Regions from separate parts of the Homo sapiens genome. Here regions 2, 3 and 4 are each reported to be linked to region 1. The links are microRNA targets in miRTarBase. Many come from high-throughput screens and were not tested one by one. Region 1 holds a microRNA gene; each other region holds the end of a gene's coding sequence.

Region 1 (3,112 bases):
TTGGATTGAGGGGGTGGGAGGGAAGGCTACTTGATGGAAAAACAGAAGGCAGAAATGGAAATGGCTATTTCCAGTAACCTATTGTGGGGCTGGCCTTGCAAGAGGGTAGATGAAGATGGATACAGTGGTGGTTCTGGTGTCATACTTATTTTAAAAAGGGACTAAAGGAGGCCAGGTGCAGTGGCTCATGCCTGTAATCCCAACACTTTGAGAGGCTGAGGTGGGCGGATCACCTGAGGTCAGGAGTTCAAGACCAGCCTGGCCAACATGACAAAACCCCATCTCTAGTAAAAATACAAAAATTAGCCAGGCATGGTGGCACTCGCCTGTAATCCCAGCTGCTCAGGAGACTGAGGCATGAGAGTGGCTTGAACCCTGGAGGCGGAGGTTGCAGTGGGCTGAGAACCCACCACTGCACTCCAGCCTGGGCAATAGAGTGAGACTTCGTCTCAAAAAAAAAAAAAAAAAAAAAAAAAGGCAAAAGGACTTTGGAGATGATTTGGGCAAAACTCTTTGTGGTACAGATGAGGAAACTAAGTTTCAGATTGAGTAAGTGAGTTGTACTGGCTCACATGGCCACTTGCACCTAGACTTAACACTCTTTAATCAAATCCATGTCTTTCCAAGAGTAAATTGGAGAAAATCGCTTTCCAAAGATGTGCCTCAGTTTCTTGAAATGAAACAAGAGAAAGTCTCCTTTTCAAGAATGGGTATTGAGTCCAAAGGGCAAAACCAGCATCATCGACAACAAAAGCTTCAAACACTTGCCAAAGCCTGCATTAAACAATTACCCATAATTTGGCAATGCACTGGCCACATACAACATGAGCTTGATGTCTTTAAGTTGGGACATGCGGTCCTGAAGTTCCGTGATGGTTGGCATTTCCAAGGCAGCTGCCTGGTGCTGAGCCACGTGCTGCTCCCAGGTTTCTGCAGGCTCCACGGAGATACGCACAGGATTGCTTTCAATACAACAGAGCCTTCCGGGGCTTTTCCAGACTGGAGCCTGAGCTCAGACACAATTCTATAGAGACAGTCCATGAGAAAGACCCACAGGCCACTCGGATGACACCAAAATAGACATGTGAAGTCCTGGCTTAGTTGACTGGGAGGGAGGAGGGAGGGGGAAGCTGCTCCCAAACACGTCCACCTGATGGAAATATTCTGAACAGGAATGAGCTGTAAATAAACTAGGCTCCTAAAAACAAATAGCTTCAGGGAGTCAGGGGAGGGCAGAAATAGATGGCCTTCCCCTGCTGGGAAGAAAGTGGGTCAAGGGGGAAAGGGTGAGGGGGATGGGGTGGGGGAGCCGAACAATGCAGAAGCCTCAGCCAGAAATGCAGCTGATAATTTGTGGTCACTGAAGAGGTCTCCAATTTCCAGGAAGAAAGGAGAGAAGTGATTGCTTTAAATGATACAAGGTCCTTCATCAGTGGAAGGCCACACAGGGTGCTGGGTGAAGGAAGGCACTGGAGGCCATATATGGTCTGGAAAAATAATGGTGATGAGTGCATATTAGCAGTGTGGGCCTGCCAGCCTCCCAGGTGCTTTTGGAACACTGCAGCCTCAGCCCTTAGCTGTGTGCTGAGGCAAAAGAGAAGCAAAGGAGAAACTGTAGCCAGGGGACCTTAAAAACGTTCCGGGATTGGTGTGAACCTGCCAGCCTCCTCCACCCTACAACTGAAGCTGCCCACTCCTAGCGACTCAACACTCTAGGAAACTTGGAGAAGCTTGAGGAGGAATACATTGGCATTAATGTCAAGTTCGGGAACAATGTATCCATATTATTTTACCACTGAGAAAAGTAGCCCGTGACAGCTGGAGCTGCCCTGACTCTCAGAGCTCGGCATGGTGTTTTGCAACACAGAAGCGATGTCACAGAACACCAACTTCAGACAGGGTCACCCTGTGACCTTGATGGATTGAGAAGAAAGTAAGAATCACTTGATAATCACAACTGAACACAGACGAAAACAGGACTATCATCCAACCACAAAAGTAACTAAACATTCTCCTATCCTTGCTAATATGAGTGATTGCTGCTGTTTAAAAAACCAATCACAGCTTTGGTCTTGCTCCACTCTCTTCTAGATATGAATTAAGGTACTCAATTATAGAATGGCCCTTTCTTCCTGATGGCATCCAATTCAGAGTGAAGCCAGACTTCATTTCCTCAGTCTCCCCTCCATCACTTAGCAAAATCCCCAACCCTAGGATCAGTCCTTCCCAGCATCCTCTAACTGAGATGCCCCACGGTTCCTTCCGGTGTGTGTTCTCCCTCTTTGCAGTGAGTCAATAAACCCAGCTTGGTTCCCTGAAGCCTTTGCTTGGAGGGCACTGATGCTATAGCCCCAAGTTGTTGTTATGGGACTTGAAGCTCCAGACCTTCATTTCTACCACATGCAGTCATGGTGTAGAGCTCAAGAGGAAGGGCTCCGGAACCAGACTGCCTGGCTCTGTCACTTACTAGCTATATGACTTCGGACAAATTGCTTAACCTCTTTGCCTCAGTTAATGGATCTGTAAAATGGAGATGATGATAACAAGAGTAGTACCTAGCTCTTAGGGTTGCTGTGAGGATTAGGTGAATTTCTATGTGTGAATCACTTAAATGGTGCCTTGCATGTGGTGTTTGTCATTATTAATTCAGCAAACGTTTGTGGAGTGTCTAGCATATGCCAGATACAGTGCTAGACCCTGGGGATAAAAGCTGGCTCCTGCTCTCCCAGAAAGCACAGTTTGGTCAGAGGGATACAAGGAAATAGTTTTTCCCCATGGAGGAAACCTAACATAGGGGTAAACCCAGAGAAAAACAGCAGGGCCACTCAATCTTGCCTGGGAAGTCAAGGAAAGCTTCCTGGTGGAGACGGCATCTAGTGGAGGCTGCTTGTGGGAGGGCAGGGAGTGGGGTACAAGCAGAAGGCCTCTGAGCTCTGCAAGCCTTTCCAACTACAGATGCCATTTAGGTACTTTCTGCTTCCCACAGGCCTGGCCCAGTGCCTGGCAAAGAGTGTGCTCAAATGAATAAATGTCTAACACCCATAAACTAGTGCCTGCTGTGACTTTTCTTTCTCAAACTCTGACCACTGTTGCCCTGGGTACCCTGCAACTT
Region 2 (3,112 bases), not on the chromosome of region 1:
AGGCGGCAGCTCGCGTGGGGGCGTGACCATGCTGGCGGGGGCGGGGCCGGAGGCGGGCGGTTTAGAGAGCGGGGCGGTCTGCGGGGTGGGGGCGGGGCCTGGTGGGGGCGGGGCCTGTGCGGTCTGCGGCGCGGAGCCGAGTGGGCTGCGGGGATGCGGGGGACCAGCTGCGTGGGCGGCGGCGCCGAGAGCCCCGGAGGCGCGGGGCTGAGCGAGGGCCCGCGGGGGCGCTGGCTGCGCTTGGCTCCGGTATGCGCCTACTTCCTCTGCGTCTCGCTAGCTGCCGTGCTGCTCGCCGTGTACTACGGTCTCATCTGGGTACCCACGCGGTCTCCCGCGGCACCCGCCGGCCCACAGCCCAGCGCGCCGTCCCCTCCGTGTGCTGCCCGCCCGGGCGTGCCGCCTGTCCCGGCGCCCGCCGCTGCCTCCCTCTCCTGCCTCCTGGGAGTCCCCGGCGGGCCGCGACCCCAGCTCCAGCTGCCGCTGAGCCGCCGCCGCCGCTACAGCGACCCTGACCGCCGTCCGAGCCGCCAGACACCCAGAGAGACGCCAGAGGCCGCGGAGGGGCGAAGACCCGGGTAACTCTCCCTTCCACCCCAACCCGGATCGCCAGCCCTCGAGAGCTCTGTGCTCCACGCCGAGGATGCACCGTCTCTGGATTGGTCCGGCCTTCTTCCTAATGACATCGCTCAGCGTCTCTGGAGCCGTCATCCCGCGGAATGGGGGCCCAGGGGGTGTCAGCTCGGGGCCTTGCCTCTTGCAGCTACTCTGTGGTCAGGCCGGGTCCTCCACCATCAGGAAGATCCCATCCTGAGCTCTGTCTCCTGCCCCTCCTGCTGTGGGATGCTGAGCACAGAGCCCACAGCCCATCTGCCTCTTCACCTCCCTGAATCCGTGTCCATCTGCAATAAACGACAGCCTCGGCTGCCTCGTGCTGTGTCTGTCCTGTTGTCTGCAGAGATGCCTCCCCTCCCAAGTTTGTGTGGGAAAGACCTTCCTGGGGTGTGGCCTTTGTCTGTTTTGTCCCGGGTGGGCTGTTCCCCTTCCTTAAGGAGCTCTTCTTTTCTTGGAGTAGGGAGAAGCAGCTTAGCAGCAGCAGGGCCTTTGAAGGTCAGACAGTGGGAAGGGCTTCCCAGTTTTTTGTGTGCTTGGAGCAAAGGACAAATGTCTCTGGGGAGAAGCAGAGTGTCTGCCCTCGTGTTACAGCACAGGAGACAAGAGGAGGGGTGGGGTGATATAGGACAATAGCTGGGGTTCTGGGAATTGCTGTTGGTGTAATTATCATGTCAGGGACAGAGGCTGAATCACCCAGGGATCTCAGTTGGCTGCCGAGAGGGAACGATGCTGGCCCACTTCCTGGGGTCAGAGAGATGAGAGTGGATGGCGGCGGCGGTGGTGTTGCTTCTCAGCCTGTCTGGAAATCTCAGAGCCAATGACCAAAGCGCTGTGCTGCCTTGGAAGACTGGTGCAGCCTCTGGCCTGGGGCGCTGCTAGGAAACCAAGGCCGGGAAACTGAGGTCTAGCTTCTGGGCAAGGAGTCCGAGGTGGGGAGGCCATGTTCCATCCTGGAAGACTGAGGCCTGGCTCTGGACAGGGCCTGGGATCTGACATGCAGGAAGCTGGTTCCTGTCCAGCCTCCCCGCTTGAGCTGGAGGCCTTCCCAGGAGAGTGAGGCTGAGCATCTTCTCCCACGCTGTGGCTCCTGGAGATCTGTGGAGGTGGTTAGGAAGGTCAGCTGCTCTGCTCACCTCCCCTTTACCCCACCACCACTCCCCAGAGGGTGGTTGTGAAGGGGAATCTAGGAAGCCAGCACTTCTTTGTAGTCAGCATAGGTGATAGTTAGGGGCACTGACTGGGGCGAGACTACTCGGGTTCAAATTCCAGCTCCTCTCATTACAAACTGTGTGACTTTGGGCAGGTCACTTGACCTCTGTGTTTCTTTTTTTTTTTTTTTGAGATGGAGTCTTGCACTGTTGCCCAGGCTGGAGTGCAGTGGCATGATCTTGCTCACTGCAACCTCCGCCTTCTGGTTCAGGTGAGTCTCCTGCCTCAACCTCCTGAGTAGCTGGGATTACAGGTGCCCACCACCACACCCAGCTAATTTTTTTTTTGTATTTTTATTTTTTATTATTTTTATTTTGAGAGAAGTCTCACTCTTGTCCCCCACGCTTGAGTGCAATGGCTCGATCTCTGCTCACTGCAACCTCCACCTCCCAGGTTCAAACAATTCTCCTGTCTCTGCCTCTCAAGTAGCTGGGATTAAGGCCCCTGCCACCACGCCTGGCTAATTTTTGTATTTTTTAGTAGAGACGCGGTTTCACCATGTTGGCCAGGCTGGTCTCGAACTCCTGACCTCGTGATTTGCCCACTTGGGCCTCCCAAAATTCTGGGATTACAGGCATGAGCCACCACACCCGGCCTCTGTTTCTTTTTTTTTTTTTTCTTTTGAGACGGAGTCTTGCTCTGTCGCTCAGGCTGGAGTGCAGTGGTGCAATGTCGGCTCACTGCAAGCTCCGCCTCCTGGGTTCATGCCATTCTCCTGCTTCAGCCTCCTGAGTAGCTGGGATTACAGGCGCCCGCCACCACGCCTGGCTAATTTTTGTATTTTTAGTAGAGACGAGGTTTCATCATGTTGGTCAGGCTGGTCTCAAATTCCTGACCTAAGGTGATTTGCCCACTTTGGCCTCCCAAAGTGCTGGGATTACAGGCGTGAGCCACTGCACCCAGCCTTATAACTTATTTAAAATTTTTAAGCATTTTTTGTTTGTTTGTTTAATAGAAATGGGGTTTCACACTATGTTAGCCAGGCTGGTCTTGAACTCCTGGGCTTAAGTGATTTTCCTACCTTGGCTTCCCAAAGCCCTGGAATTATAGGCATGAGCCACTGTGCCTGGCCCTGCCTCTGTGGTTCTGTAGAATGAAGATGCTAATGGTACTTCTTCATAGACTTGCTCTGAGGAATAAATAAACTGGTGATCTCAAGCCCTGAGAACGATGTCACATGTTCTCTCTCTCCACCACCTCTGTCCCTCAGGGTTTAAAAGCCCCAGCTGGGATCCTCTGGGGATAGCAAGTCAGTCCAAAGCCCTGGCCACCAGCAAATGGTGAGTTT
Region 3 (3,000 bases), not on the chromosome of region 1:
CTCAGACAGGGTGGGGGTGCGTGGGGCAGTGGACACGCTCTATCTCTCCAGTCTACCTGGAGGGTGGGCGCCAGTGCTGTGCCACCGTCAGGGCCTCCCTCTCAGAGAGAGGGACACAACAGAGCTGGCTGCCCTCCCCCAACCCCCACTGGTGCTGACACTAGCCAGAGGGAGCTTATTTCCTGTTTCTGGAAGCCTCCCCACTCATTCCCCAAGCCCACCTGGCCTGCTTGGCTGCCTTGCCTGACCAGACTCAGGGTGCTCAGGTCTGGGCTTCGGGGGCCCAGAGTGACCCTCATACTGCCCTGCTGGGATGGCATGTCTACAGGAACCCCAATGGCGAGGGTCTGCCACACTGGCCGCTGTTCGACCAGGAGGAGCAATACCTGCAGCTGAACCTACAGCCTGCGGTGGGCCGGGCTCTGAAGGCCCACAGGCTCCAGTTCTGGAAGAAGGCGCTGCCCCAAAAGATCCAGGAGCTCGAGGAGCCTGAAGAGAGACACACAGAGCTGTAGCTCCCTGTGCCGGGGAGGAGGGGGTGGGTTCGCTGACAGGCGAGGGTCAGCCTGCTGTGCCCACACACACCCACTAAGGAGAAAGAAGTTGATTCCTTCATTCACTTCGCCATTCATTCATACTTCCGTCCATCCATTCAGAAAGCATTTATTAAGAATTTACTCAGGCATGATGGCCCATACTTGTAATCCCAGCTATTGGGAAGGATGAGATGGGAGGATGGCTTGAGGCCAGAGGTTTGAGACCGACCAGCCAGGGCAACACAGTGAGACCCCTTCTCAAAAAAAAAAAAAAAAAAGAGAGAGTGTGTGATTAGAAGCTAAATAGGAAAGTTTTGAGCTTCAAGTCAGTGAGGAGTAAAAAAGATTTTTAAAAAGCAAAGAAAACAAAATATAAGGGAAAAATATGAGAAAAATAAAAATAAAAAGAGAATAATAGGCCAGGCACTGTGGCTCATGCCCCTAATCCCAGCACTTTTGGGAGGTCAAGGTGAGCAGAACACCTGAGGACAGGAGTTTGAGACCAGCCTGCCCAACGTGGTGAAACCCCATCTCTATGAAAAATACAAAAATCAGACGGGCACAGTGGTGGTGCCCACCTGTGATCCCAGCTACTCAGGAGGCTGAGGCAGGAGAATTACTTGAACCTGGGAGGCAGAGGTTGCAGTGAGCTGAGATTGTGCCACTGTACTCCAGCCTGGGCAACAAGAGCGAGACTCCGTTTCCAAAAAAATAAGAGAGAATAGAAGAAGCTACTGCATGATGTTAGTTACCAAGCCTGCCATGGGTCCTCTCTTGCTAGACACACTCCATAGATCCCCCCACTGAGCTGTGGATGGGCAAACCCCGGTGGAATCCCACCCTCCCCAACACCCCACTGAGCCCTGGGCCCCCTCCTCCCTTCCTCACCTCCACCTTCTCCCTGCCTTCTCTCTTCTCTCGTCTGAGCCCCCAGGCCTTTTCCACTTTGAGGGAGGTGCTTCGAAGAATGTTGCCCACACCTAAGTGTTAGAAGCCTATGTCCGTTCATCCCTGAGAGGTCTGAAAGAATAAAAATAAATTCTAAAAAAAGCCTCTGTCTGCCTCTCCCCAAGCCCCAAGTGCTCTTACATCTGTGAGTGGCCAGGCCGGGTGCGGTGGCTCACACCTGTAATCCCAGCATTTTGGGAGGCCAAGGTAGGCGGATCACCACATCAGGAGATCGAGACCATCCTGGCTAGCATGGTGAAACTCCGTCTCTACTAAAAGTACAAAAAATTAGCCTGGTGCAGTGGCACACGCCTGTAGTCCCAGCTACTAGGGAGGCTGAGGCAGGAGAATCCCTTGAACCCGGGAGGCAGAGGTTGCAGTGAGATGAGATTGCACCACGGCACTCCTGCCTGGGCCACAGGACGAGACTCAGTCTCAAACAAACAAACAAAGAAACAAAAACAAAAAACAAAAAAAATCTGTGAGTGGCCAATAGGAAACCTGGTTACTGGAATTCCTAGTGTTTTAGTCCATTCAGTTGCTATAGCAAAAATACTACCGATTAGACCCGGTGCAGTGGCCCACACCCATCATCACAACACTTTGGGAGGCCGAGGTGGGTGGATCACTTGACCCCAGGAGTTTGAGACCAGCCTGGCCAACATGGTGAAACGCTGTCTCTACTAAAAAGACAAAAATTAGCCAGGCTCTGTGGTGCACACCTAGAATATCAGCTACTCGGGAGGCTGAGACACGAGTATAACATGAACCCAGGAGGTAGAAGTTGCAGTGAGCTGAGATTGCACCACTGCACTCCAGTCTGGGCGACAGAGACCCTACCTCAAAAATAAGTAAATAAATAAATAAACAAATAAATAAATATTACCGGTTAGGCCGGGTGCAGTGGCTCATGCCTGTAATCCCAGCACTATTGGAGGCCGAGGTGGGACTCCTGAACTTGAGCCCAGGAGTTCCAGACCAGCCTAGGCAGCATGGAGAAATGTCATCTCTACAAAAAAATAGAAAAATTATTTGGATGTGGTGGCACACACCTATAGTCTCAGTTACTCAGGAGGCTGAGGCGGGCAGATCACTTGAGCCTGGGAGGTCAGAGCTGCAGTGAGTCGTGATTGCACCACTACACTCCAGCCTGGGCAACACAGCAAGACCCTGCCTCAAAAAAATAGGGCTTCCAATACTGATATAAAACTTAAAATACTACAGGTTAATATTATAAACTGGGTGCCTTATAATGACAGAAATGTATTGCTTACAGTTCTCGAGGCTTGGACATCGAGGATCAAGGTGCCAGCAGATTTGGTGTCTGGCAAGGACTTGTTCTCTGGTTAATAGATGGCAACCTCAGGCCAGGTGCGGTGGCTCACACCTGTAATCCCAGCACTTTGGGAGGCCAAGGTGGGGTATGACCTGAGGTCAGGAGTTCAAGACCAGCCTGGCCAACATAGTGAAACCCCATCTCTACTAAAATACAAAAATTAGACGGGTGTGGTGGCAG
Region 4 (3,112 bases), not on the chromosome of region 1:
TCAATCCCTGAAGCACGTCGTCTACTCAGGCTCACGCAACTAGCATCAGACACCCCACCCTGGGCCAGCACCTTCCTCTCACTGCCACCAGAGGCTACAGAAAGAGGTGCTTGTGGTTAAGGTTTTCCAAGGTTAGAGCTAGTCACCCTCCCACAGAAGACCACTAACCATTAGGAAGCCACTTGGCAACCTCAACCTCAGTGAAGCTGTTTGGATGAGTTGCTGCAGAGGGATGTCACAGTTTGTGACTCGCACTCCCAAGGGGAAACATTCTCATTGCTCTCAGTAGAACGCTGACTGCAGTCTATGTGGTGAAGTCCGCCAAGTCATGAATGGCTAAAGACCAGTGAAGCTGCCAAGTCATTCCTTTTGGACTAACCTCCCAAAAGAAGAGCTCCAAGTATAAGAAGAGTAGCTCCAGAGCCAAGGTGAGGAGAGCTGGCGTCTACTCCTTCCCTTCCAGCTCAGCACTCCAGCTGACCTTCCCACACCAGCGAGGCAGCCACAGATGACTGAGACCACAACTGCAGGTTGTACGGGTTTATTGTTCCAATACCACAAGAGACATACAGAAGCAGTGCTTTCTCTGGGCAGCCTCATGGACCAGATCAGTGTCAAACTGTACCCTTGAGTGTCCCCAAAGGTTCCAGCAGAGGGAAGAAGAGGACTGGACATGTTTGGGCCCCTGTTCCCGGTCTTTGGTAAACAGACGCTTAAGTTGACAACTTGGACTTGGCCAATACTGCATTCTAAATCACCACATCATTCCCAACTTGTCACTCATGCTTCAGATGACGAAAATGCCACATCAGATTAAATGAGAAAAAAACCTTTCAGATAAAATGAGACTTGAAGTCATACAAATTTTATACTTGATCTAAATTAAGCAAGAACCCTCAACTCTGTAATAAGTCGAAATACAAGATATAAGGCAGGAAACAAGGCAAGGGAAAACACACACAGGGGCATCTACTTGCTGGAAACATGTTGGGAGAGAGGCAGGAGCAGGCATGGCTTTGTTTCTTCCCAAACCTGCCTGATGTCAAAAGTACGTCAAAAGGAGCCTCACAGTCCCAGGAGAGCATGGTCCCAGGTATTGCTGTGACAGGTGGTGACCCTGGAGCCAGATCTGGAAGGCCTTCCTGGGGGCTGCCCAGGGAACTCACCCATGAATCCAGAAGCACTTAACACTGGTGGTGGTGATTTGTCACATATGGCAGCAAGCAGCCATTAAGGCTGTAGGAGGAGAGATGTGAAAAGCAAGATGCGTTTGCTCGGTGGCATGTGGGCAGGCTGACTGTGGCTCTGCAGGCTGCAGCAGGTCCAGCCGGTGACCCAACAGGGCATCGGGCAACCTGGCAGGTCACAAGTCAATCATTTCACCCTCACGTCGAGCAGCACAGCACTCAGTGGCTCTGACAACAGATGTAGAGAAGGAGATTACACCACTTTAATGCAATGATGCTGAAGATGTAAAATTAGGAAGAGACGTTCATGTTCTCTGTACAATACATCCATTTACAGAATCAGCCAGTACTGTGTACAACATATAAATACATGATAAAACATTAGAGGTGCATAGAGCATACTTACAGAAGCCAAAAAGTTCACTTTATACATCCAAGAATAAAGAGTTAAAAATATAAAAATAAGAAACACACACTGCTTTGAAATGTAAAATGACTTTCACATACACAGGTGCGTGGAGATGCCCACTCCCATAGGGTCCAAAGTGACAGGGAGGATGTCAAGCAGAGGAATTCACCTGCAAACATCTGGACGGCTGACTCACAAGGTCTACAGATGGCATTTTCATAGGAAAGACAACCCTATTCCCCAACCCCATTGTCCAAGCAGAGCTATTCAAGGTTCCAAATGATCCTGTGGGTTAGTGGATCACACTGAGACAGAAAAGTTCCAAATTTGCTTCAGCAACAGAACCAAGGTCAAACTTGCTCCGTCAACTGGCAAATGACTCAACTGTGACCCTGAGGTCAGCAGGTGCACCAGCCCCCTGGTGGGCAATGCCAGGAGTTACTTTAACCCTGTGCTGGCTTCTTTCCTGGCCATCAACTCCCCAAAGTAGCAGAAGAAAAGATGGCAGGGAGGGGGTAGTGGAAGACTGGCATTTCTACTTAGTTCAGGTAGGTTAACTCCCTTGGTGGAGAATGCAACCTTCTTGCTTCAGTTTCAAGTCCCTCTGGGAGTCAGGCAGTCCCCCCACCCCCCGCAACCCCACTCCGTGCCACATCAGGCTCTGTCTTGCAGGAGAGCTCAGGCTGGCTGGCCTTGGGCAGCCCAATGGGTTATACCCAGGAAACCCCTCCAGCAAGACCAGAAGGGTCGCCAAGTGACAGAGGGCTTTAGCAGTGTAAATTTTGGGGGAAGGCAAGAGTGCTCCTGCCTAAAGAGTATTATATCAATGATATTCTGTATACAGATTTAAGATCAATCATTATCAAAATACACACACTAAATATACAATGTTTCCCATGGCCATAATTTATTATCTCACCACAAGGCACAATACACAGAGCTTTGAGGGTCCAATACAGTCATCGTGACAGAACGCACCGCAGCCTTGGCACATGATCATGGCTTTCAGGCTGCACGCACACTGGAGCGAGATGCTTTCCACCGTGCTGCTGTCAGTGAACATTTGCAAGGAAAGTGATGCACTGTGGCTCGCACCAAAGTTTGCTTTGTGGCTCAGCTGCACCACACTTCCAGCAAGGCCTTTGGGAAAGGTGGGAGAGCTAGAGGAATAATTAAAGCTGGTGGAACTCAGTTGGAGTTTAGAAAGCTTCCCATAAAATGCCTGCTTGATGCTGAGTTGGGAGGGGAGAGAAGAAGGCTCCAGAGGCTCACTGAGCCCCTTCCCTGGCTCTCGGGGTAATTTCCAGAAGGGCAAGTCCATGACAAAGGGCATCCCTTCCAAGTGACCCACCAGTTCCAGGGGACTATGCCCAGTAGCTTTCCTGTTCTCGGCATTTGCCTTAAGAGGACCCCCCACAAAAGTCTTCTCATTCTTGACGCTGCCAACAAAGGCATGTGGCTTTGGAGCCCAGTCTTCCCTTGGAGTCTGTACCCCACCAGACATGGAGTTTGTGCT

The links. Region 1 holds the annotated microRNA hsa-miR-4270 (UCAGGGAGUCAGGGGAGGGC, at 1,215-1,234, shown strand). A microRNA usually pairs through its seed, bases 2 to 8, with sites in the 3' UTR of a target mRNA and lowers its output. Matches are read on the target gene's strand: a 7mer-m8 pairs with bases 2 to 8, a 7mer-A1 pairs with bases 2 to 7 and ends in A, and an 8mer does both.
Region 2: the mRNA of INAFM1 is a reported target of hsa-miR-4270. Seed matches in the 3' UTR shown: 8mer at 883-890.
Region 3: the mRNA of CES2 is a reported target of hsa-miR-4270. Seed matches in the 3' UTR shown: 7mer-m8 at 516-522, 7mer-m8 at 1,434-1,440 and 7mer-A1 at 1,545-1,551.
Region 4: the mRNA of ASXL1 is a reported target of hsa-miR-4270. Seed matches in the 3' UTR shown: 7mer-m8 at 2,102-2,108 and 7mer-m8 at 1,737-1,743.

Annotation. Positions count from the first base shown.
Region 1 is chr3:15,494,401-15,497,512 of GRCh38, reverse strand. It overlaps MIR4270 (microRNA 4270), which reads left to right and starts at 1,205; the gene lies at 1,205-1,274. All of the region lies in intron 1 of COLQ (collagen like tail subunit of asymmetric acetylcholinesterase), which reads left to right.
Region 2 is chr19:47,274,767-47,277,878 of GRCh38, forward strand. INAFM1 (InaF motif containing 1) reads left to right here and starts at 119. Exons shown (of 1, transcript NM_178511.6): 1 at 119-957. The coding sequence starts at 154. The coding sequence ends at 582. It also overlaps a transcript of CCDC9 not described here. RefSeq lists a silencer at 41-490.
Region 3 is chr16:66,943,511-66,946,510 of GRCh38, forward strand. CES2 (carboxylesterase 2) reads left to right here. Exons shown (of 12, transcript NM_001365405.1): 12 at 329-1,586. The coding sequence ends at 515. Among named protein-coding and RNA genes, the nearest start is that of CES2, 9.5 kb to the left of the region's middle.
Region 4 is chr20:32,436,733-32,439,844 of GRCh38, reverse strand. It overlaps ASXL1 (ASXL transcriptional regulator 1), which reads right to left. Exons shown (of 13, transcript NM_015338.6): 13 at 526-3,112. The coding sequence ends at 2,507. Among named protein-coding and RNA genes, the nearest start is that of ASXL1, 80 kb to the right of the region's middle.